3 separate regions of the Homo sapiens genome follow, and regions 1 and 2 are each linked to region 3. Evidence: fine-mapped expression QTL. A gene starts in region 3. Each other region holds a variant in brackets. All regions are shown on one strand. Distances are from middle to middle. Region 1 holds the start of LPAR5 (lysophosphatidic acid receptor 5). Region 2 overlaps NCAPD2 (non-SMC condensin I complex subunit D2). Region 3 holds the start of IFFO1 (intermediate filament family orphan 1).

Region 1 (8,176 bases), 75 kb before region 3:
CAGGAATATCTGAACGATGGGTGGGGGCAGTTCCTAGTCGGGGCTGGATTAAGTATCCTTAGCTGCTGGGGTTTCTTCTCTGGCCAGTCCGTGAAGGCCTCTGAGGGCAATGCTTCCTCTTCACTCTCTCCTTGGCCCGTGTGGGGTTGGGTGAGTGCACTGAGCTGGGAGGGATGGGCTGAGATCTGCTGAGGTGGGTGTGTCCCCTCCCGCCCTGGGAGCAGGTCCTACCAGCCCAGCCCAGCCCAGCCCAGCCCAGAGCAGGCAGCGGAAGCCAGCTTGGGGCAGCGCAGAGCAACACGGAGCACAGGTATGGGGGTGTCACGAATTGAACTGCACAGGGAGCACAAGGGGAGCACCCCCCTGTAGAAATGGGAGATTTGGGTGGGGGACAGAGAAGAGGGTGGGCATGGGCCCTGGAAAACCCTTCTGAACAGAGTAAAAAGCCGAAAGGAGCTGCCTCAAATAGACAGATCTTTTCAGATGGCGCTGGACAAACAGCTAACATGCCTGCTACACCTCGGGAGTGCTCCTCTTTGATGCTTGAAGCCCCCACTCTGGGGCATCTCGCAGAGGCTGTGTCCTCCCCCTCCCCCTCTAGGCCCCCACTGTGGAACTGAGCCTTGGGCCTCCCAGGGAGGGCCCTCTGGGGACTGTTTACACACTTTTTCCACTCGCAGTTAAACCTCAACCCCTACACCACACATCCCCCAGGGCCAGGCAGATGACAATGAGCTGATCTAATCAAACTTGCTAATGGGTTGACTGGCAGAGATGTGTTCTCAGTGTTATCCTTCCCAACTAGCCAAGGTGTACTGTAATGGGGTCTTCAGGAAGTGCTGCCTTAACCCAAAAGGTGCATCTATATAAGGGGATTAGACTGATGGTCTTTGATGTCCCTATGGCTCTGATAGATGGTGGCTTCAGGGGATGGAATTTTGGAGGTGGGGGACATATTCGGAGGTCAGCAGGGCTTTATGATACCTTCACATCACACCATGAGGATGGGGCCTACCTCTTCCCTGTGGTTGTGGGGCCCCCATGACAAGAAGGGGACCTCCACCAGATTGTATCTCCAGAACTACTCCTTTTTTTCTCTCTTCCTTCCTTCCTTTCTTTTTTTTTTTTTTGAGACAGAGTCTCCCTTTGTCACCCAGGCTGGAGTGCAGTGGCACGCTCTCAGCTCACTGCAACCTCCGCCTCCTGGGTTCAAGCAATTCTCTGCCTCAGCCTCCTGAGTAGCTGGGATTATAGGTACGCACCACCATGCCCGGCTAATTTTTGCATTTTTAGTAGAGACAGGGTTTTACCATCTTGGCCAGGCTGGTCTTGAACTCCTGACCTCATGATCCACCTGCCTCGGCCTCCCAAAGTGCTGGGATTACAGGCATAAGCCACGGTGCCCAGCCATTTTTTTTTTCAAGACAGGATCTCACTCTGTTGCCCAGGCTGGAGTGCAGTGGCATGAACATGGCTCACTGCAGCCTCAAACTCCTGGGTTCAAGCAATCCTCCCACTTCAGCCTCCCGAGTACCTGGGACTACAGGCAGGCACCACCATGCCCGGCTAATTTTTTTTTTTTTTGAGATGGGGTCTCGCTCTGTCGTCTAGGCTAAAGTGCAGTGGCATGATCTAGACTCACTGCAAACTCCGCCTCCTGGGTTCAAGCTATTATCCTGCCTCAGCCTCCAGAATAGCTGGAAATATAGGCTTGAGCCACCACAACCAGCTACTTTTTGTATTTTTTTTGGGTGTGTGTGTGTTTGTGTAGAGACAGGGTTTCACCATGTTGCCCAGGCTGGTCTTGAACTCGCGCTAAAGTGATCCATTCGCCTCTGCCTCCCAAAGTGCTGGGATTACAGGCGCGAGTCACACACTCGGCCTCTGTTAGTTTTTTGAAATTTTTTTGTAGAGCGGAGCGTGGTGGCTCACACCTGTAATCCCAGCACTTTGGGAGGCCAAGGCGGGCAGATCACAAGGTCAAGAGATCGAGACCATCCCAGGCAACATGGTGAAACCCCCGTCTCTACTGAAAAGACAAAAATTAGTTGGGCACGGTGGCACGCACCTATAGTCCCAGCTGCTCGGGAGGCTGAGGCAGGAGAATCCCTTGAACCCGGGAGGCGGAGGTTGCAGTGAGCTGAGATCACACCACTGCACTCAAGCCTGGCAACAGAGCGAGACTCTATCTCAAAAAAAAAATATTTTTTGTAGAGATGGGGTCCCACTATGCTGCCCAGGCTGGCAGAAATCCTCCTTTTAGGGTGAGCTAAAGTTGTAGACCCAGTGGGACATGGAGGCAGGGATTGAGGTGAGACAGAAACTTACTCACATGCAGTATGTACAGGACTCACCACCCAGCCACTCAGAGGCACTAGAGCCCAACTCCATCTGTCTGATGCCATCTGCTCTCCCTACTCTGCTGCCCCCAGTGCATACCCCAGGACATACCTACTGACAGAGATCTTTTATGCCCAGGGGCATTTTAAAAAGCCCAGGAGAATGGCCGGGCACAGTGGCTCACGCCTGTAATCCCAGCACTTTGGGAGGCTGAGGAGGGCAGATCACCTGAGGTCAGGCATTCAAGACCAGCCTGGCCAACACAGTGAAAACCCATCTCTACTAAAAATACAAAAATTAGCCAGGCGTGGTGGCGGGCGCCTGTAGTCTCAGCTACTCGGGAGACTGAGGCAGGAGAATTGCGTGAACCCGGGAGGCGGAGGTTGCAGTGAGCTGAGATTGCACCACTGTACTCCAGCCTAGGTAACACAGCAAGCGAGACTCCATCTCAGAAAAAAAAAAAACAAAACCCAGGAGAAGGAACCGGCAAGAGCAGTGAGGGCTGAAGCCAGTGCACTCTAAAGTCAGGTGAGGTCAGCAAAGCCCACAGGCTCTGGTGGATTTCCCTGAGGAAGCAGGACCTGCCAGGCTACAAGCAAGGGTCAGATGCACACAGACCACCTCAGGACACAGGTCAGGGGGCTGGGCCTGCCTCCGTGGCTTCTCTTGGGACTGACTTTCTTGCTTTTCCAGCTCTCGAAAGCAGGGTAAAGGGAGAGGCACAATGGCAAGGTGATATCCGCACATCAGGGAAACTAGTTATTGAGCTGTAGACCACCTTTGCTTTCTGCCTTTTCCCAGACAAATGTCAGGAGGGATGAGGTCAGAGTACTCAGGGAGGGAGAAGCCAGGGCCGAGGATGATGCTGGAAATGCAGGAAAAGACAGGCTTCAGCAGAGAAGGGTGGGGAAAGGCAGGAGCAGGAATTCTGGCTGGAGAAGCAGGCAGGCCTGGGCCAGGGAGGAGGGAAGACACGACCTGACACCCGGGATCCGTGCCAGAGACTCCTCTCTGAGGAAGAATGTGGCCCCTGGGCAGAAGGAGGCCTCCCCGCCCACCCTGGGGACTTTGTACTGTCTCCAAACCTTGAGGATGAGGATTCATCCTCCTGTTCCATTTAGTCTTCCATCTCATCCCTGCCCCTCAGGACCAGGATAAGCGGAAGAAAAGGATTCATTTGTGCCCTCAAAACAGCTCTGGGACAGAGCTTTTCACAAAGGCTTTGG[A/G]CTGAGCTAAGCTTCTGCTGGAGGCTCAGCACAGCTGGGGTCTGTTTGGAGGGCCTGGATACAGAGATACTGAGTCTTCATGATGAAGCCTGTCTGTGGGGAAAGGGTGCATCCTCCCAGCGCTGCCTGAACACAGAAGCAGAGGAAGTAGGCTTCGCTAATTCAGCGAGTGGGTTAGAGTACATACTAAAGAGGGACTTCCTGTGTCGGGGCTGAGACACTGATGGGCCACGAGACTCTAAAATGAGGGTGGGGCTATTCCAGAGCTGATTCTCAGGGGCAAGGAGGATGGGGAGATGTAAGAACCTTCTTTTCAGACCTCTGACCCTAGGAATTGGAGTCAGGGGACCCAGGATGTGAATTATTTGAAAGAGGAGGCAGGCCGGGTCCAGTGGCTCACGCCTGTAATTCCAGCACTTTGGGTGGCCGAGGCAGGCAGATCACAAGGTCAGGAGTTCAAGACCAGTCTGGCCAATATAGTGAAACCCCGTCTCTACGAAAAATACAAAAAATTAGCCGGGTGTGGTGGTGTGCGCCTGTAATCCCAGCTACTCAGGGGGCTGAGGCAGGAGAATCGCGTGAATCCGGGAGGCAGAGGTTGCAGTGAGCTGAGATTGCACCGTTGCACTCCAGCTCAGGCGACAGTGCGAGACTCCGTCTCAAAAACAAAAGAAAAAAAAACGGAAAGAAAGAAAGGAGGCAAAAGACAGAGCAAGGCATGTGGTGTTTGCGGGGAGGTGGGCAACACAGGAAGGGTATGGGGGAGGAACTGGGCAAAGAGGAGGCATTCCCCTGCCCCTGCCCTTCTCATTGTTCCCAGCCCCCTGGTCCTTTCTCTTCAGCTCCCCTCAACGTCATTTGCCCAAGAGGCTGGATACCAGGGCAGGGTGTGTGGAGGAGAGTGAGGGAATGATCATGATTGCACCTCCTGCTCACTTTTACACTCTTGTTCTCACTTCCTGCCTCTGGCATAAAATAGCCCTGCCCCTCTGGCTTATCTCAGCAAAGAGCAGTGCCCAGCCCAGCTCAGAGGGCAAATGGGACAGATCCCAGAGGCCCTGAGGAGGTAAGTAACCTGGCCCCCGGATGTGTACATGGGAAGCTGAAGGACGGAGACCCAGGGAGAAGGAAGGTGGCTGCACACATTCTGGTGTGTGAGCGGTGTTGGGGTGGGTGATATAGAAGGAGCAGTCCCGGACCCTCTGTGTGTGTCGTGGTCACTTTGCTCCTCAGTGCCTTGGGGTTGAGATCTCCCATGCTTGTGAAGCTGCCTGGTTCTGTCTGTGTAAGGATACTGTCCCTAAGGCAGGGCCTTCTTTCTCTTCCTCCCCAGCCCAGTTGTCTATGCACATACGTGTTTATTACAGGATGTGTATAGACACTGAGTTCTATGTTACTAGGGGTCTTGTGTGCACATCTCTTAGCGTGTGTGTATATGTGTCTGTGCACACACGTGTAATGAGTGGTATACTTACCTGACATCAGTGTGTGCCGACGTTCTTCAGCCTATGGGGGCCTCCATGTCCCTCCTTCCTGGTGTTCCTTCTTTTCTGGGGCAGCTGCCATTTCTTTGATTCCTGCATCTCTCCTACAGCCTGACCTCTTCTTCAAGGCAGGATTGGGGGAGAGGGTCTGGGCTGCCCCTCCCCAACACCTAGATTCCCTCCTTCCACATCCTGTTAGCCTCCTTTTTGGCAGTTTTTTCCATCTTCGCCATCTGGCCTGGCACTGTGCCCATTCAGCTCCTGAAGGGAGCCCCAGGGCTCGGGAAGCAGAAGTGTGGGATGGGGACCAGGCCAGGGGCCTGGCAGCTCTCAGTGCTCAGCTTGGGCCGTTCTGTGTGACTGTCAGAAAGAGGCGGCTTTTTGACCACCAGGATCCTTTATAAAGATGGGCTGGGGCCAGGTGCGGTGGCTCATGCCTATAATCTCAGCACTTTGGGAGGCCGAGCCGGGTGGATCAACTCAGGTCAGGAGTTCAATACCAGCCTGACCAATATGGTGAAACCTGTCTCTACTAAAAATACAAAAATTAGCCAGGCATGGTGGCGTGCACCTGTAGTCCCAGCTACTCAGGAGGCTGAGACAAGAGAATTGCTTGAACCTGGGAGGAAAAGGTTGCAGTGAGCTGAGACTGTACCACTGCACTCCAGCCTGGGCAACGGGGAGACTCCGTCTCAAAAAAAAAAAAAAAAAAAAAAAAAAAAAAAAAAAAAAAGATGGGCTGGGTGCAGTGGTTCACTCTTGTAATTCCAGCACCCAGCACTTTGGGAAGCCGAGGTCTGCAGATCACTTGAGGTCAGGAGACCAGCCTAGCCTGACCAACATGGTGAAACCCCATTTCTACTGAAAACACAAAAAATTAGGCAGGTGTGGTGGTGCGAGCTATGATCCCAGCTACTTGGGTGGCTGAGGCACGAGAATTGCTTGAACCCAGGAGGCGGAGGTTGCAGTGAGCCAAGATTGTGATACTGCACTCCAGCCTCCAAACGAAGTGAGACTGTATCCAAAAAAAAAAGAAACCCAAGAACTTCTCCCCTTTGGAATAGAGTAACAAGAGAGCATCGCCATTTCCTTTGCTAAAAAATTCCTAGCTATACCTTTACATTTATTTATTTATGTTTTTTGAGACAGAGTTTCACTCTTGTCACCCAGGCTGGAGTGCAGTGGCGCGATCTCAGCTCACTGCAACTTCCGCCTCCTGGGTTCAAGGGATTCTCCTGCCTCAGCCTCCCGAGTAGCTGGGATTACAGATGCCGCCACCATGCCTGGCTAATTTTTGTATTTTTAGTAGAGATGGGGTTTTCACTATGTTGACCAGGCTGGTTTTGAATGCCTGACCTCAGGTGATCCGCCCGCCTCAGCCTCCCAAAGTGCTGGGATTACAGGTGTGAGCCATCACTTCGCCTAACTTTACCTTTAAGTAGCCGCTCAACTAATAATCTTGGTCTATTTAACATTTTAATTTTTTTTTTTTTTTGACGGAGTCTCACTCTGCCATCTAGGCTGGAGTGCAGTGGCGCAATCTCGGCTCACTGCAACCTCTGCCTCCCGGGTTCAAGCGATTCTCCTGCCTCAGCCTCCCGAGTAGCTGGGATTACAGGCAGGTGCCACCAAGCTCGGCTAATATTTTGTATTTTTAGTAGAGATGGGCTTTCACCATGTTAGCTAGGATGGTCTTGGTCTCCTGACCTCATGATGCACCCACCTTGGCCTCCCAAAGTGCTGGGATTACAGGTGTAAGCCACCGCGCTTGGCCCTTTTTTTTTTTTTTTTGAGACAGAGTCTCGCTCTGTTGGCCAGGCTGGAGTGCAGTGGCACGATCTCGGCTCACTGCAACCTCCGTCTCCCGGGCTCAAGCAATTCTCCTGCCTCAGCTTCCCGAGTAGCTGGGATTACAGGCGTGTGCCACCACCCCTGGCTAATTTTTGTATTTTCAGTAGAGATGAGGTTTCACCATGTTGGCCAGGCTGGTCTCGAACTCCTGACCTCAGGTAATCCGCCCACCTCGGCCTCCCAAAGTGCTGGGATTACAGGCGTGAGCCACCGTGCCCGGTACATTGTAACTTTTTCAACAGAAAGACTTGAGATCAGCCAGGCACAGTGTAATCCCAGCACTTTGGGAGGCCAAGGCAGGCGGATTACCTGAGGTCAGGAGTTCGAGACCAGCCTGGCCAACATAGTGAAACCCAGTCTTCTCTACTAAAAATACAGAAATTGGCCGGGCATGGTGGTTCACGCCTGTAATCCCAGCATTTTTTGGAGGCTGAGGCGGGCAGATCACCTGAGGTTGGGAGTTCGAGACCAGCCTGACCAACATGGAGAAACCCCATCTCTACTAAAAATACAAAATTAGCTGGGCGTGGTGGCACATGCCTGTAATCCCAGCTACTAAGGAGGCTGAGGCAGGAGAATCGCTTGAACCTGGGAGGCAGAGGTTGCGGTGAGCGGAGATCGTGCCATTGCACTCCAGTCTGGGCAACAAAAGTGAAACTCCATCTCAAAAAAAAAAAAAAAAAAGAAATTAGCTGGGCGTGGTGGTGAGCGCCTGTAATCTCAGCTATTCAGGAGGCTGAAGCAGGAGAATCACTTGAACCCGGGAGGCGGAGGTTGCAGTGAGCCGAGATTCTGCCACTTCACTGCAGCCTGGGTGACAGAGCATGCGAAACTCCATCTCAAAAAAGAAAAGGAAGGAAGGAAGGAAGGAAAGAAAGAAAGACAGACTTGAGGTTCTTTGAAAATCATCCATCCACTCATTCAGTGTCTAGTATATGCTTTCTAATTGGAAGGATCTACTGGTTCTCCAAGTAATGGTTAAGAATGATCAAGTGGGCCTGGCGCGGTGGCTCACGCCTGTAATCCCAGCTCTTTGAGAGGCCAAGGCGGGCAGATCACGAGGTCAGGAGATAGAGACCATCCTGGCTAATACAGTGAAACCCCAGCTCTACTAAAAATACAAAAAATTAGCCGGGTGAGGTGGCAGGTGCCTGTAGTCCCAGCTACTCGGGAGGCTGAGGCAGGAGAATGGCGTGAACCCGGGAGGCAGAGCTTGCAGTGAGCCCAGATTGAGCCACTGCACTCCAGCCCGGACGACAGAGCAAGACTCTGTCT
Region 2 (8,176 bases), 54 kb after region 3:
GTACAGGGGCAGGACTTGCGTCAGGAATAAAGGCTCTCGTGCCCCTTTGTTCAGGTGTGCTTTCACGGCGACTGGCCAAGGAGAGGCACCCCTCTGCAGAGAAGTAAAATTGCTTTCCTAAGAATCCTTTGTTTGAATGTTCATTTTCCTTAGGATTTTGAGTGTTATTCCCAACACTCCCAAAGTACTCGGATTAAAGGCATGGGCCACTGCACCCAGCCTCCCTTCATTTTTGTTCCCTGACTGTCTTGTATCATGAGATGGGCTGGGCTCAAGCCTGTAATCCCAGCACTTTGGGAGGTGGAGGCAGTAGAATCGCTTGGGCCCAGGAGTTCAAGATCCGCCTGGGCAACATGGTGAGGCACCATCTCAAAAATAAATAAATAAATAAAATAAAAGATGTTCTGGGCTCATCTTGTATTTTCCCTGGCCCAGTCCTGTAATCAACCATTCTTGGTGGAATCCTGGCTATTACGGAATAATGGTATGTAGAAGCCAAATTCTAGGCATTACTTGCACTCATTTCTATTAGAGTATTACTGCCTTTAGGCCCTCTCACTGGAGAAAAGTAAGGCACCTATGTATGTCTACAATTAATCTTCGAACAATACGATTTGAATTGTGTAGGTCCACTAATATGCTAATTTTTTTCAGTAAATATACTGGAATTTTTTCTTTCTTTCTTTTGAGACAAAGTCTCACTCTGTCTCCCAGGCTGGAGTGCAATGGCACAATCACAGCTTACTGCAGCCTTAAATTCCTGGGCTCAAGCAATCGGGCTGCCTCAGCCTCCTGAGTAGCTAGAACAACAGGTATGCTCTACCATATCTGGCTAATTTTTTTTTAAAGCTACATATGTCATGAACGCATAAAATTTATGTAGATCCTAGTCTATTTTATCATTTACTACCATAAAATATATATGTCTTTTTTTTTTTTCTTGAGACGGAATCTCTCTCTGTCGCCCAGGCTGGAGTGCAGTGGTGCGATCTCGGCTCACTGCAAGCTCTGCCTCCTGGGTTCACGCCACTCTCCTGCCTCAGCCTCCCGAGTAGCTGGGACTACCGGCGCCCGCCACCATGCCCGGCTAATTTTTTGTACTTTTTTAGTAGAGACGGGGTTTCACGGTGTTAGCCAGGATGGTCTCGATCTCCTGACCTCGTGATCCGCCCACTTTGGCCTCCTGAAGTGCTGGGATTACAGGGGTTGAGCCACCGTGCCCGGCCAAATATATATGTCTATTATAAAGTTAAAACTTATCAAAACTTGATGCAGGCTGGATGTGATAGTTCACACTTGTAACCCCACCACTTTGAGAGGCTGAGGCAGGAGGATCACTTGAGGTCAGGAGCTCAAGACCAGCTTGGGCAACATGGCAAGACCCCATCTCCACAAAAAATAAAAAATTAGCTGAGCACAGTGGGGTGCACCTGTAGTCCTAGCTGTTCTGGAGGCTGAGGCGGGAGGATTGCTTGAGCCTAGGAAGCTGAGGCTGCAGTGAGCTGTGATCACACTACTGCACTCCAGGCTGGGTGACAGTGAGACCCCATGTAAAAAAAAAACACCAAAAAACCTCACACACAAACACAGACAGTACATGACATCATTCACAGCCCAAGAGAAACGGAAATAAATATAAAGATGCAATATTATTTGTTTTTGTTTTTCTGAGACAGGTTCTTGCTGTCACCCAGGCTAGAGTGTAGTGACACAATCTCAGCTCACTGCAACTTCTGCCTCCCAGGTTCCAGCGATCCTCCCACCTCAGTCACCCTGGGAGCTGGGACTACAGATGCATGCCACCACACCCGGCTAATTTTTATATTTACCACACCTGGCTAATTTTTGAATTTTTAGTAGAGACAGGGTTTTACCGTGTTGGCCAGGCTGATCTTGAACTCCTGATTTCAGGTGATCCACCTGCCTAGGCCTCCCAAAGTGCTAGAATTACAGGCGCGAGCCACCACACCTGGCCTAAAGATGCAGTATTAAATCATAACTGCATAAAATTCACTTCAGTACACACTGTAGTACTGTAATAATTTCATAGCCGCCTCTTGTCGATACTATGGTGAGCTCAAATGTTGCAAGTATCTGCTTAAAAACTCTGAGATGTTAATCATCTTCCAGTGAGCAGTTCGTCTCTCCAGTAAACTGCATATGGCAGACCGGGCACGCTGGCTCACACCTGTAAATCCCAGCGCTTTGGAGACCGAGGCGGGTGAATCACTTGAGGTGAGGAGCTCGAGACCAGCCTGACCAACATGGGGAAACCCTGTCTCTACTAAAGATACAAAATTAGCCAGGCATGGTGGTGCATGCCTGTAATCCCAGCTACTTGGGAGGCTTAGGCAGGAGAATCGCTTGAACCCGGGGAGGCGGAGGTTCCAGTGAGTCGAGATCATGCCACTGCACTCCAGCCTGGGCAACAAGAGTGAAACTCTGTCTCAAAACAAAAATTGCATATGGCAGCAAGAAGTGATCTCCTGTGGTTCCTCAGGTATTTTTCATGTGTCTAAAGCAGTATCATAAACCTTACATAACACCATGGGACCCATAATGAAGTGCCACTAGTGATGCTGGAAGTGTTCCCAAGAAGCAGAAAAGAGTCATGACATTACAAGAAAAGCCAAATTGCTTCATATGGTACCATGGACGGAGGTCTGCAGCTGTGGTTGCCTGCCATTTTACATGATTCATCATGTAAACTTATGGTGTCGATAAATACAGCACAATACTGAACATGTATTTTCCTTATGATTTTCTTAATAACATTTCCTCTAGCTTGACTGCAAAAATATAGTAAATAATATACATAACATAAAAAACATATGTATTAAGGCTCGACGCGGTGGCTCACACCTGTAATCCCAGCACTTTGGGAGGCCGAGGTGGACAGATCACTTGAGGTCAGGAGATTGAGACCAGCCTGGCCAACATGGTGAAACCCCATCTCTACTAAAAATACAAAATTAGCCAGGTGCAATATTGCATGCCTGTAGTCTCAGCTACTTGGGAGGCTAAGGCCGGAAAATCACTTGAACCCAGCAGGTGGAGGTTGCAGTGAGCCGAGATCGCGCCACCACACTCCATCCTGGGCCACAGAGCAAGACTCTGTCAAAAACAAAACAAAACAAAATAAAAAAACTGTTATGTTACTTGTAAGGCTTCTGGTCAACAGTAGGCTATAAGTGTTTAAGTTTTGGGGCAGTCAAAACTTACATATGCAGATTTTTGACTGCACAGGGGTTGTCATCCCTAACCCCCACGTTGTTCAAGGACCAATGGTATATATATATATATATATCTATATCTATATATATATATATATATATATATATATATATATGTATATATATATGTCAAAACTGAATGAGATAGTCCATGCAAACCAGTCAGAACAACACTTAGCACGCTGTATGGTTTGAATGTGCCCCTCATAATTCATGTGTTGGAAATATAATCCCCAACATGACAGTGTTGGAAGGTGGAGTCTAATGGGAGGTGTTTAGGTTATGAGGGCTCCACCCTCACAAATATATATACATATTTTTGAGACGGAGTCTCGCTCTGTCGCCCAGGCTGGAGTGCAGTGGCATGATGTTAGCTCACTGCAACCTCTGCCTCCTGGGTTCAAGCAATTCAGTGCCTCAGCCTCCCGAGTAGCTGGGATTACAGGTGCCTGCCACCACACCTAGCTAATTTTTCTATTTTTTAGTAGAGACGGGGTTTCACCATCTTTTTTAAAAAAAAAAAAAAAATAGATGGAGTCTCGCTCTGTCACCCAGGCTGAAGTGCAGTGGCACGATCTCGGCTCACTACAACCTCCGGCTCCCAGGTTCAAGTGATTCTCCCGCCTCAGCCTCCTGAGTAGCTGGGATTACAGGCACGCGTCACCACACCCGGCTAATTTTTTGTATTTTTAGTAGAGACGGGGTTTCACCATATTGGCCAGGCTGGTCTCGAACTCCTGACCTTGTGATCTGCCCGCCTCGGCCTCCCAAAGTGCTGGGATTACAGGTGTGAGCCACCGTGCCCAACCCCTCACCGATATATTCATACTATTATAAAAAGGGCTCTGGGGAGTGGGTTCACTTGTGCCCTTCTGCCTTCTGCCCTGTGACAATGCAGCAAGAAGGCCCTTGCCAGTTACTGGTGCATTGATTTGGGACTTCCCAGTCTCCAGAAAAAAATGTGAGCCAATAAATTTCTTTCATTATAAATATCCAGTCTCAGGCATTCAGTTATAACAGCATATTTTTCTCAGTCCATTTTCTATACATCGTATTTCCATTGTTGAGCTTGTATCACATAT[T/A]CACTTCTCTGTCATGCTTTTTAAAATTTAGCATTACAGTAAGTGTATTAGAAACCTTTGTAGGCCAGACGTGGTGGCTCACGCCTGTAATCCCAACACTTTGTAGGCTGAGGCAGGTGGATCATCAGGTCAGGAGTTCGAGACCAGCCTGACCAACATGGTGAAACCCCGTCTCTAATAAAAATACAAAAAAAAAAAAAAAAAAAAAGCCAGGTGTGGTGGCATGCGCCTGTAATCCCAGCTGCTCAGGAGGCTGAGGCAGGAGAATCGCTTGAACTGAGGAGGTTGCAGTGAGCCGAGATAGTGCCACTGTATTCCAGCCTGGGTGACAGAGTGAGACTCCGTCTCAAAAAAAAAGCAACAACAACAACAACAACAAAAACACCTTTGTAAACAATTTTTTTTGAGACAGGGTTTGTTGTGTTGCGCAGGCCGAAGTGCAGTGCAGGATCATAGCTTACTGCAGCCTCAAACTTCTGGGTTCAAGCGATCCTCCTGCCCCAGCCTTCTGAGTAGCTGGGACTACAGGCAGTGCCACCACACTCGGCCTTATATCTATCTTAATTTACTATTCCCCTATTGTTAGATACTGTGATACTTGTAACTTATTCCACTAATTAACAACAACAACAACACATACTCCCCTGGCAAATCTAGGTTAAACCAACTTTCTGGTTACTCCATTCATGTGACCACACAAATAAAAATGGCCTGAGAAAAACACAGAAACAAGCTGACTAGTCTTACGTTAAACTCATGACTACTAACCTGAAGTGGGCATTCGTACTCCCAAGTCTATTCGTTTTCTTCTAGGCAATTATTTCACACCTATCCTCTGCTCATAACACCATGACCTTCTTCCCAAACTCACTCTCAGTTAAAGGCTTTCCCTTCCTATTGAGGAAACAGAAGCAGACAGAAGAGAACTTTCAACTGCCCCAAGCTCTATATTTACCTGCACTAGTTGCATCTATGCCCATACATACACTCTGCCTTTTTTTTTTGCTACTGTGGATAAACTGTCCATGTTCTGATAAAGCCATCTCCTCCCCGTGTACCAGATCACGTACTCTCTTACCTACTAAAGGCACTGCTCCAACAACTGTTCCCTCTTCCTTCTGCAGCATCAGCTTTTCCCTCTCTGATCATTCCTACTCAATATAGACACACATAATGCTGCCCATCTTAAAAGAAATACATTATGTAAATTCATCATCTCTAATCTCTGTCATTCCATTTTCTTAAAAACCTATTCCTAGCAGGCTTTTGCCCCCACCATCTCCTGAAACAGCTTTGTCAAGGTTACCAGTGACTATGACATCAATAAATCCAGTAGTTAATCTGCAGTTGACCTCTCTTTTGTTTTTGAAACACTCTCTTTATTTAGCGTCCATTTAGCTCCTTCATTCGCTTTCTGCCCCAATGACTGCTTCTTAATTTCTTCTACTGGTTCTTCTTCATCCTCCTAGCCTCTAAATGCTGGACTGTCTCAGGTCTTGGTCTTCAAACTGCTGCTCTTCTCCATCTACACTCACTGCAATCTCATGGCTTTAAGTGCTGTCTACACGCTGAGTATTAAATCCTAAATGTGTATCTTTAGCTGACAACCTCTCCCTTGAACTCTGCACTCACATAACCAACAATCTAAACCTCTCCCTCCCATATGCTACCCCATCTCAGTAAATGGCAACTTCATTCTTCTAGTTGCTCAAGTCAAAAAGCCTTGTAAGGCCGGGTGTGGTGGCCCACGCCTGTAATCCCAACATTTTGGGAGGCCGAGGCAGGCAGATCACTTGAGGCCAGAAGTTCAAGACCAGACTGGACAACACGGCAAAACCGCATCTCTACTAAAAATACAAAAATTAGCCAGGTGTCGTGACCCTGGGAGGCGGAGCTTGCAGTGAACCGAGATGGTGCCACTGCACTCCAGCCTGGGCGAGAGAGCGAGACTCTGCCTAAAAAAAAAAAAAAAAAAAAAAAAAAAAAAAATTAGCCAGGCGTGGTGGTGCACACCTGTAATCCTAGATACTCAGGTGGCTGAGGCATGAGAATTGCTTGAACCTGGGAGGCAGAGGTTGCAGCGAGCCAAGATCACGCCACTGCACGCCAACCTGGGTGACAGAGCCAACAGAGCAAGACTGTCAAAAAAAAAAAAAAAAAGCCTTGTAATCATTCTCATCTCAGATTCCTTTACTAACCCTATAATCCAATCCAATCCATCAGCATTCCTGTAAAAGCTCTACTTTGAAAATATATCCTGAGTCGTTTTATCACCACTTCCCCTGCTATCCCTCCAGTCCAATCTACTTGGTATTACTGTATTAGCCACTTAACTAGTATCCCTGCTTCTCTCCTTGCCTCTTATAGTCTCTGCTCAACACAGTCGCCAGTGAATCTTTTAAAATGTCAGACCATGTCACTCCCATGCTCAAAACCCAATGGCTTTCAAGTTCATTCACACTGAAGTTCAAGTTTTTGCCATGATCTACGAGGCTCTAGAGATCAGTGCTTCTCAAGCTTATAATTGCATCCAAATTGCCTGGGGGAATCTTCTTAAAATACAGATTTCCTGATTCAGCAGCTTTGACATCCTGGGCCTTGACATCCTGCATTTCTAATAAGCTCCCAGATCATGAGATCCTGATATTAACACTGCTGATCTGAGGACCACATTTTGAGGAGCAAGATTCTAGAATAATCTGTACCACTTCCTACCTAATCTCTTTTTCCTAGCTTAATGCACTCCAACTCTATTGGCATTTGCCCACCTCAAGGCCTTTGCATAGGCTTTTCTGTTTGCTTGGAATGCTCTTCCCTAACAATCTGCATAGTTTATTTCCTTACTTTCTTAAGGTCTCTGCTCAAACGTGACGTAACAGCAAGCCTTCTCTGATGATCCAACATGAAATGACAGGTCCTACTATCTTCTTCTTTATATTATTTATTTTTAAGCTTTGTATAATTAATTTTAGAGACTATGTTGCCCAAGCTGGTCTTGAACTCCTGGCCTTAACAATCCTGCTTCTGCCTCCCAAGTGGTTGGGATTACAGGGACAAGCCACCATTCCCAGTACACTTCTTTTTTTTTCTTTTTTGAAACAGGGTCTAGCTCTGTGGCCAGGTTGCAGTGCAGTGGCATGATCATGGCTCACTGCAGCCCCTGCCTCCTGGGCTCAAGCAATTCTCCCACCCCAGCCTCCCAAGTAGCTGGAACTACAGGTGTGCACCACCACGCCTGGCTAACTTTTTTGTAATTTTGGTAGAGATGGGGTTTCACCATGTTGGCCAGGCTGGTCTCAAACCCCTGAGCTTGAGCAATCCAACCACCTTGGCTTCCCAAAGTGCTAGGATTACAGGTGTGAGCCACTGCGCCTGGCCACACTGTCTTCTTTATTTTTCTCTTTGGCTCTTACAACCATCTTACACACAGTGGTCCTCACCAATCTGTGTTCTCACTTTCTGGGGTTTCAGTTACCCGTGGTCAATCTCAAGTCTGAAAATATTAAATGAAATATTCCAGAAATAGGCTGGGCACAGTAGCTCACGCCTATAATCCCAGAACTTTGGGAGGCCAAGTTGGGCAGATCACCTGAGGTCAGGAGTTCGAGACCAGCCTGGCCAACATGGTGAAACCCCAGCTCTACTAAAAAATACAAAAAAAATTAGCTGGATGTGGTGGTGGGCACCTGTAATTCCAGCCACTTGGGAGGCTGAAGCAGGAGAATTGCTTGAACCTGTGAGGTGGAGGGTGCAGTGAGCCGATACCTTGCCACTGCACTCCAACCTGGGCGACAGAGCAAAACTCCGTCTCCAGAACAACAAAAAAACCCCCCAAGAATTAGCCAGGCGTGGTGGCACTTA
Region 3 (8,176 bases):
CTTGCCAATGACGCCAATGCTGAGCGGCTCAAGAGTGTTGTGGGCAACTTGCATCGGCTGGGAGTCACCAACACCATTATCAGCCACTATGATGGGCGCCAGTTCCCCAAGGTGAGACTCGAGCTGTGTGTCTTCTGAGGCTTCTTCCGGTTGACCTTCTCCCTTCCTGACCTCAATGTTTAGACTCGACCCTAGTAAATATTGCCCTGCTGGTTGCAGAAGAGACATATGATTCATCTGTATCTTTTCTCCAGGTGGTGGGGGGCTTTGACCGAGTACTGCTGGATGCTCCCTGCAGTGGCACTGGGGTCATCTCCAAGGATCCAGCCGTGAAGACTAACAAGGTGAGGAGTCAGGTGGTGGGCCCCTGAGAGGCCTTGGCTGGGTCTCGTAGAGCTGGAAACTGAGATGGGGACACCCTCTGGGCTCCCCTCTCCTCCTGAGGCTGCCTTTGGGTCTCTTTTTGGGACAGGATGAGAAGGACATCCTGCGCTGTGCTCACCTCCAGAAGGAGTTGCTCCTGAGTGCTATTGACTCTGTCAATGCGACCTCCAAGACAGGAGGCTACCTGGTTTACTGCACCTGTTCTATCACAGTGAGACCTCTGCCATGGCAGAGCAGGGGAGGCTGGGCTGGGGGGCTCTTTGCCCCTTAGAGCTCCCTTCAGCTCCAGCTCTGCTTTTTCCTCCGTTCTTTGTCTTCCCCCCACATCCAGGTAGAAGAGAATGAGTGGGTGGTAGACTATGCTCTGAAAAAGAGGAATGTGCGACTGGTGCCCACGGGCCTAGACTTTGGCCAGGAAGGTTTTACCCGCTTTCGAGAAAGGCGCTTCCACCCCAGTCTGCGTTCTACCCGACGCTTCTACCCTCATACCCACAATATGGATGGGTTCTTCATTGCCAAGTTCAAGAAATTTTCCAATTCTATCCCTCAGTCCCAGACAGGTAAGTAATCTTTTTCTTCCCTTCGTCACCACCTTTGCTCTTTCCACCTTTCAGGAGGCTTTATGGTGTGACAAGAGGAAGGGAAAGGAAAGATTCATGCATCCCTTACTCCAGCCTTTGCATGCTTGGCTGAGAGAACCCTCTCATTCCAGCTAGAATTGCTTTTGAGTGCTGGACCCCATGTGAACAGGCTAAAGTGTTCATATGGATGGAGGCCTGTTCCTTTATTCTGCCAAGTGGCTGCAGTTGTTCAGCACTAAATGCATTCCAAATGCAGGTTGTGGTTTCTTTTCCTTCTTGGCACAGGGTGGACTTACTGGTACTGGACCTCTGCTGGTCCAGCAATCTCAGCACTGGGTTGGAACAGAGCTCCACAGAGCTTTGTCAGCAGTTCTCTGAGCCCTTCACACTCATTGCAGATTGTTTTCTCAGCCATCTTGAGGAGTCTGGCCTGGATCTCAAGGGAAGGGTGGGGTTTTCTGAAACAGCCTTGAGAGCACTGCTTACTGGGATATAACCCTGGGTTTAGTTGGAAGAGGGAGAGAAGTGCTACTTTAGAAATAGTAGAATTTGTCTGGGCGTGGTGGCTCATGCCTGTAATCCCAGCACTCACCTGAGGTCAGGAATTCGACACGGTGAAACCCTGTCTCTACTAAAAATATAAGAATTAGCTGGGTGTGGCCAGGCACGGTGGCTCACGCCTGTAATCCCAGCACTTTGGGAGGCCAAGACGGGTGGATCACGAGGTCAGGAGATCGAGACCATCCTGGCTAACACAGTGAAACCCCCATCTCTACTAAAAATATAAAAAATTAGCTGAGCTTGGTGGTGGGCGCCTGTAGTCCCAGCTACTCGGGAGGCTGAGGCAGGAGAATGGCATGAACCCGGGAGGCGGAGCTTGCAGTGAGCTGAGATTGTGCCACTGCACTCCAGCCTGGGCGACAGAGTGAGACTCCGTCTCCAAAAAAAAAAATTAGCTAGGTGTGGTGGTACGTGCCTGTAGTCCCAACTACTCAGGAGGCTGAGGCAGGAGAATCACTTGAACCTGGGAGGTGGAGGTTGCAGTAAGCCGAGATCACGCTATTGCATTTCAGCCTGGGCAACGAGCAAAACTCCATCTCAAAAAAAAGGAATAGTAAAATTTGCTATAACTTAAAAAGTACATATTTTAATTATCCCGCACTTCATCACAATTCACATGGAAAGAAACTTCTCTGATTTAAAAAATAAATAGGCCAGGTGTGGTGATGGCTCATGCCTATAAATCCCAGTACTTTGGGAGGCTGAGGTGGGAAGATTGCTTAAGACCACGAGTTTGAGACCTGTCTGGGCAACAAAGGGAGACAGTAGTTCCAGCTACTCTGGAGGCTGAGGTAGGAGGATCCCTTGAGCCCCAGGAGTTTGAGGTTGCAGTGAGCTATGATGGCACCACTGTACTCCAGCCTGGGCAACACAGTGAGACTCTACCTCAAAAAAAAAAAAAAAAAGATAAATAAAGCCTAGTGCTTCAAATTCATTTAGAAGACCCTGCGAGGCCGGGCGTGGTGGCTCGCGCCTGTAACCCCAGCACTTTGGGTGGCTGAGGCAGGTGGATCACCTGAGGTCAGGAGTTCAAGACCAGCTGGTCAACATGGTGAAACCTCATCTCTACTAAAAATACAAAAATTAGCCGGACATGGTGGCGCACGGTTGTGATTGTCCGGAGGCTGAGGCAGGAGAATTGCTTGAACCCAGGAGGCAGAGGTTGCAGTGAGCCGAGATCACACCACTGCACTCCAGCCTGGGTGACAGAGTGAGATTCCATCTCAAAAAAAGAAAAAAAAAACCCCAAAACCCTGAGAATCACCTCTTCCTTACAGCATCTTGTTACTTCCTGTCCTCAAGAGGGCGCAGCTTCCTGTAGAAACCTTTTGGCCCAAGGATAGGCAGTGATTTTTTTTTTTTTTTTTTTTTTTTTGAGACGGTGTCTTGCTTTGTCGCTCAGGCTGGACTGCAGTGGTGCAATCTCAGCTCATTGCAACCTCCACCTTCCAGGTTCAAGCGATTCTTGTGCCTCAGACTCCCAAGTAGCTAGGATTACAGGTGTGTACCACCATCCCTGGCTAATTTTTGTATTTTTAGTAGAGATGGTTTCACCATGTGGGCTAGGCTGGTCTTGAACTCCTGGCCTCAAGCAATCCACTTGCCTTGGCCTCCCAAAGTGCTGGAATTACAGGTGTGAGCCACCACGCCTGGCCTATAGGCAGTGATCTTTTAATACAAGGTTCAACTAGGACTTGAGTAAAGGCCAAGTTATATTAAGTAATGGGAATTTAGGTAATCTGCTCTTAGGCACTGACCTAATTGTGTGGAGCTCCTGCCCAGGAAATGGCAATTCTCATATTTTAATATGAGAATATTAAAATATGGTGATAAGGCCCATTTTCTGACACCATCTGTTTAATTTTAACCCCAGGAAATTCTGAAACAGCCACACCTACAAATGTAGACTTGCCTCAGGTCATCCCCAAGTCTGAGAACAGCAGCCAGCCAGCCAAGAAAGCCAAGGGGGCTGCAAAGACAAAGCAGCAGCTGCAGAAACAGCAACATCCCAAGAAGGCCTCCTTCCAGAAGCTGAATGGCATCTCCAAAGGGGCAGACTCAGAATTGTCCACTGTACCTTCTGTCACAAAGACCCAAGCTTCCTCCAGCTTCCAGGATAGCAGTCAGCCAGCTGGAAAAGCCGAAGGGATCAGGGAGCCAAAGGTGACTGGGAAGCTAAAGCAACGATCACCTAAATTACAGTCCTCCAAGAAAGTTGCTTTCCTCAGGCAGAATGCCCCTCCCAAGGGCACAGACACACAAACACCGGCTGTGTTATCCCCATCCAAGACTCAGGCCACCCTGAAACCTAAGGACCATCATCAGCCCCTTGGAAGGGCCAAGGGGGTTGAGAAGCAGCAGTTGCCAGAGCAGCCTTTTGAGAAAGCTGCCTTCCAGAAACAGAATGATACCCCCAAGGGGCCTCAGCCTCCCACTGTGTCTCCCATCCGTTCCAGCCGCCCCCCACCAGCAAAGAGGAAGAAATCTCAGTCCAGGGGCAACAGCCAGCTGCTGCTATCTTAGATGGTTGAAAACTAGACGGGTGGCTCACTGCCATTGTCACCAGGTTGGAACTCTTGCCTCTGTGAGGATGCCTTCTCTACTGTGCATACCCATGAAATTTAATACACATTTTAAAACCTCTGGCCACTGAGTATTTTTGAGGGAACTGGGTGCTGCCTTTGCCGCTTTAAGGGTAAAGATGGGAGGTGGGACTGGGATCTTCTGAGGAGAGGGAATGGTTGGGTGCTACTGAGAAATAAGGTCAGTTTTAGGCTCCTGCATCCTTGGGTTTTCCCAGGAAGGGAAAGCCCTGGAGTCAGAGCTAGGGGTGATTGAACTCCGGGGAGAGGAGGGCAATAGAAGTGTAGGGGAAGGCGGGGCACACTAGCTCATGCCTGTAATCCCAGCACTTTCTGGGAGGCCAAGGCGGGTGGATCACCTGAGGTCAGGTGTTCGAGACCAGCCTGGCTAACATGGCGAAACCTCGTCTCTACTAAAAATACAAAAAATCAGCCGGGTGTGGTGGCGGGTGCCTGTAATCCCAGCTACTCGGGAGACTGAAGCAGGAGAATCGCTTGAACCTGGGAGGCTGAGGTTGCAGTGAGCCAAGATCGCGCCACTGCACTCCAGCCCGGGCGACAGTGAGACTCGGTCTCAAAAAAAAAAAAAGTCGTGTAGGGGAGATGGGCTTGCCACCAGAACCCATGGGGTACTGGAGGTCCTGGGCTTTACGCCACCCCGGCTGGAGTCCAGGCGGTGGCTCCCCTCATCACAGGGCTCGGCCTCAGACCCGGAAAGGTCCAGGGTCCGGCCTCCAATTGGAGCCTGTCATTGGCTTCCCCTCGGCCCGCCCCCTGACCTCTGCCCCGCTGCCGAGCCGCCTGATTGGTCGGCTCTGTCCCGCCGGCGCCGCATTGGCTCTTCTGGCTCGCCTTCCATCCCTGCTCCTGCACCGGTCTGCATCTCCCAGCAGAAGGCGCAGCCATGAATCCGTTATTCGGCCCCAACCTCTTCCTCCTGCAGCAGGAGCAGCAGGGCCTGGCCGGGCCACTGGGGGACTCACTGGGAGGCGACCACTTCGCCGGGGGAGGAGACTTGCCCCCGGCGCCTCTCTCGCCGGCCGGCCCTGCTGCCTACTCGCCGCCCGGGCCGGGCCCGGCCCCGCCTGCCGCCATGGCCCTCCGCAATGACCTGGGCTCCAACATCAACGTGCTCAAGACCCTGAACCTCCGGTTCCGCTGCTTCCTGGCCAAGGTGCATGAGCTGGAGCGCCGGAACCGGCTGTTGGAGAAGCAACTGCAGCAAGCGCTGGAGGAGGGTAAGCAGGGCCGGCGGGGCCTGGGTCGTCGCGACCAGGCAGTGCAGACCGGCTTCGTCAGCCCCATCCGGCCCCTGGGGCTGCAGCTGGGCGCCCGGCCGGCCGCTGTCTGCAGCCCTTCGGCGCGCGTGCTGGGCTCGCCCGCGCGCTCCCCGGCCGGCCCCCTCGCGCCCTCCGCGGCCAGCCTCTCGTCGTCCTCCACCTCCACCTCCACCACCTATTCCTCGTCGGCCCGCTTCATGCCCGGCACCATCTGGTCGTTCTCGCACGCCCGCCGGCTCGGGCCGGGACTGGAGCCCACTCTGGTGCAAGGGCCTGGCTTGTCGTGGGTGCACCCGGATGGGGTGGGCGTCCAGATCGACACCATCACGCCCGAGATCCGCGCTCTCTACAACGTGCTGGCCAAAGTGAAGCGGGAGCGGGACGAGTACAAGCGGAGGTAGGGATTGGGAAAGGGGGACAGGTCTCTCTGTGTCATACCACTCACAACGGGCCGCGAGTTGGTGTGGGTTCCGAAGAATCAGGGGTGAAAAGAATGAGAGTAAAGTTTGTGCTGTGTAATGAGGAGCTTGGAAGCAATTGGATGCAGGGAGACTAGAATCCGCAGAGAATGCAGAAGCCCTGCTCGTGACAGGAAGAAGGACGCTGGGAGCGGAACACGGGGGGATTCCTACTTTTCCGGCTTGTCTCTGCCATCCAGGCTTAACTGCGGGTTTTGTGCGGTGTGAAAGGGACTGGGGCTCTGCCCTACCGGTCTCAGCCCTGGGGCAGGTTAGGGATATAAACTTCAAAAGTAGGAGGCAAGGATATAGCGTAAATTTGGGAGACTAAATTGAGTGAAACTGGAAGGGGCTGGTGAGGGAGGGGCTGTACCTTGCAACGAGTGATTCTTTCACACCCCAAGGTTTCCCAAAGAATATTGATGGAAACCAGGTACCTGCTGTGGTTTCATAGGAAAAGCTCCGGGACCTCAAGCCATTGCTTGAGTAGGTCAACAAACTGGGAAAAGAAAGAGTGAAGGGAATTCACTAGGGTGAGGGTGGAGAGCAGGGCTGACAGGGGAATCTTGGCAGTATAAAGCGCCAGTGGGGAGGGAGAGTGGAGAGCCAGCAGGGGACTGAGCAGGGAGAAGCTGGGATATGGGCCCTCCCTAGGACCGCGAGGCCGCGGGGCGGGCCCGGTGCATTCTGTGGATGAAGATTTGGCTGTCTGAGAGGAGCCCGGCCCCAAGGGGCAAGGGAAAGGGATGTGATGCCAGGAGTGCTGGCTGTATACCAAGTGGATTCCTTAGATGGCTGATAACCAAGCCGATAGGACAGGAGTGAGAGCAGAGGTAGTGTCTTGCAGACTCCAACCCAAGCCTTGAGGAGGGAGCGGGTGACTGACAGGCTTTGGTTTGGCGGCCTCCCCTCTCATCTCAGCTATTATGACCCCTTGTGGGCGGGCCTGGGAACTACCTATGCAGCCCAGTGTGGCGGAGATTCAGCACTGGGTGAGGATTGGCCGAATGTTCTAGGAAATGACCGCTGGGTCTAGGGGCGACCTTCAGGGATCTCCACCCTGCTGGAGTTTACCAGATCACAGATCAGCAGGCTTTCTTTTTTTTTTTTTCCCATAAATGATAATATTTTATTATAGAAAAAGCATCCCAAATACAGGATTTCGTAAACACTGGTAGGTGAACAAGTGCAATTTTAGAAGTAAATGCAAAGTAAAGAGGCAAAACCTACAAGCATTTTGCCTTCAGAAGAAGATGTAGTGTTCTCCTGCACTAGTGATCCCACCCAGAACACAAATGTGGCTCTGTCTCCCGTGAAAGCATCAGATTTGCTTTCTGAGCTCAGTATGCCCATTTCAATAATTGCAAAGTGATGGCAAGAAGTGGCGTTGAACACATGACTACAGACCCTTGACTTAAAATATTGAGACAGGGACTTGCTCTGTCATCCGGGCTGGAGTGCAGTAGCGTCATCACAGCTCACTGCAGCCTCATCCTCCTGGGCTCAAGCAATCATCCTGCCTCAGCCTCTTGAGTAGCTGGGACTACAGGTGTGCACTACCATGTCCATGCCTGGCTATTTTTTTTTTTTCTTTTTGCGTTGTCCAGGCCAGTCTCAAACTCCTGACCTGATCAGCAGGCTTTCTGAGCTTGAGTCCTGTCCTCGTGCTGGCTTCCTTAGTTGTGGTCCATGTTATGTGTCCTTGGGAGTTTCAGTTGTCCTGAAATCATCGTTCTGCCACCCAGAACCAGCCTGCTCTGCCCCTGCAGGAGTTAACTACGCGCTCAGCAGTGGCACAGGCACAGTTCTGGAATACATCCATAACCACAGGAACAACTGCTGTTCTCAGGAGCATTTTTTTTTTAAACTGAAGGAGCGTTTGTCCTTGGTCCAGCTGTCCAGGACAGGAAGGAGTTATTCCTTGGGGACTGATTAGCTCATCGCTCTGCAGCACGCTGCTGTGTAGAGAGCCTTAGCTGGATTCGGATGGTGCGTGATACTGGCAGTGACTCTTCTTCCTCCCTAGATTCCCTGCCCTCATTCTGGTCTCTTTATAGCAACACTGTAACTCCTGTCTTCTGCCTGGAAGGCCTGGGATGGCTTGAGCGCTACACTGGGAGGTAGCTAAAGGCCTCCTGCGTTCTATTTTCAGCTCCCCTGCCTTGTGCGTGACCTTTTTTTGAGCCCCCATTTTCCCAACATAGGAATGGTCCCTGCTTTCTCTCTTCAACCCAGGGATACAGTTTTTTGGAAGAGAGATATTTGGTCCATGCAGAACACATGGATATCGCTCTCAAATTCTGCCCATGTTAAGGGAACCTTATAAGTGA

Evidence for each region. PIP is the estimated chance that this variant, and not a neighbour inherited with it, causes the effect.
Region 1: its variant is fine-mapped to the expression of IFFO1 in whole blood (INTERVAL, PIP 0.99).
Region 2: its variant is fine-mapped to the expression of IFFO1 in whole blood (TOPMed, PIP above 0.99).

What each region holds. Positions count from the first base shown.
Region 1 is chr12:6,628,041-6,636,216 of GRCh38, reverse strand. It overlaps LPAR5 (lysophosphatidic acid receptor 5), which reads left to right and starts at 258. Exons shown (of 2, transcript NM_020400.6): 1 at 258-310. RefSeq lists a silencer at 2,292-2,341 and enhancers at 3,257-3,316, 4,167-4,216. The variant A/G (reference allele first, on the strand shown) is at 3,567.
Region 2 is chr12:6,499,356-6,507,531 of GRCh38, reverse strand. The region is part of intron 2 of NCAPD2 (non-SMC condensin I complex subunit D2); the gene reads right to left. Among named protein-coding and RNA genes, the nearest start is that of NCAPD2, 9.3 kb to the right of the region's middle. The variant T/A (reference allele first, on the strand shown) is at 4,316.
Region 3 is chr12:6,552,866-6,561,041 of GRCh38, reverse strand. It overlaps IFFO1 (intermediate filament family orphan 1), which reads left to right and starts at 5,000. Exons shown (of 10, transcript NM_001193457.2): 1 at 5,000-5,785. The coding sequence starts at 5,013. It overlaps NOP2 (NOP2 nucleolar protein), which reads left to right. Exons shown (of 16, transcript NM_001258308.2): 12 at 1-111; 13 at 255-344; 14 at 473-595; 15 at 716-944; 16 at 3,400-4,171. The coding sequence ends at 4,049. RefSeq lists silencers at 4,823-4,982, 5,033-5,272, 5,383-5,562 and enhancers at 6,023-6,523, 6,524-7,024.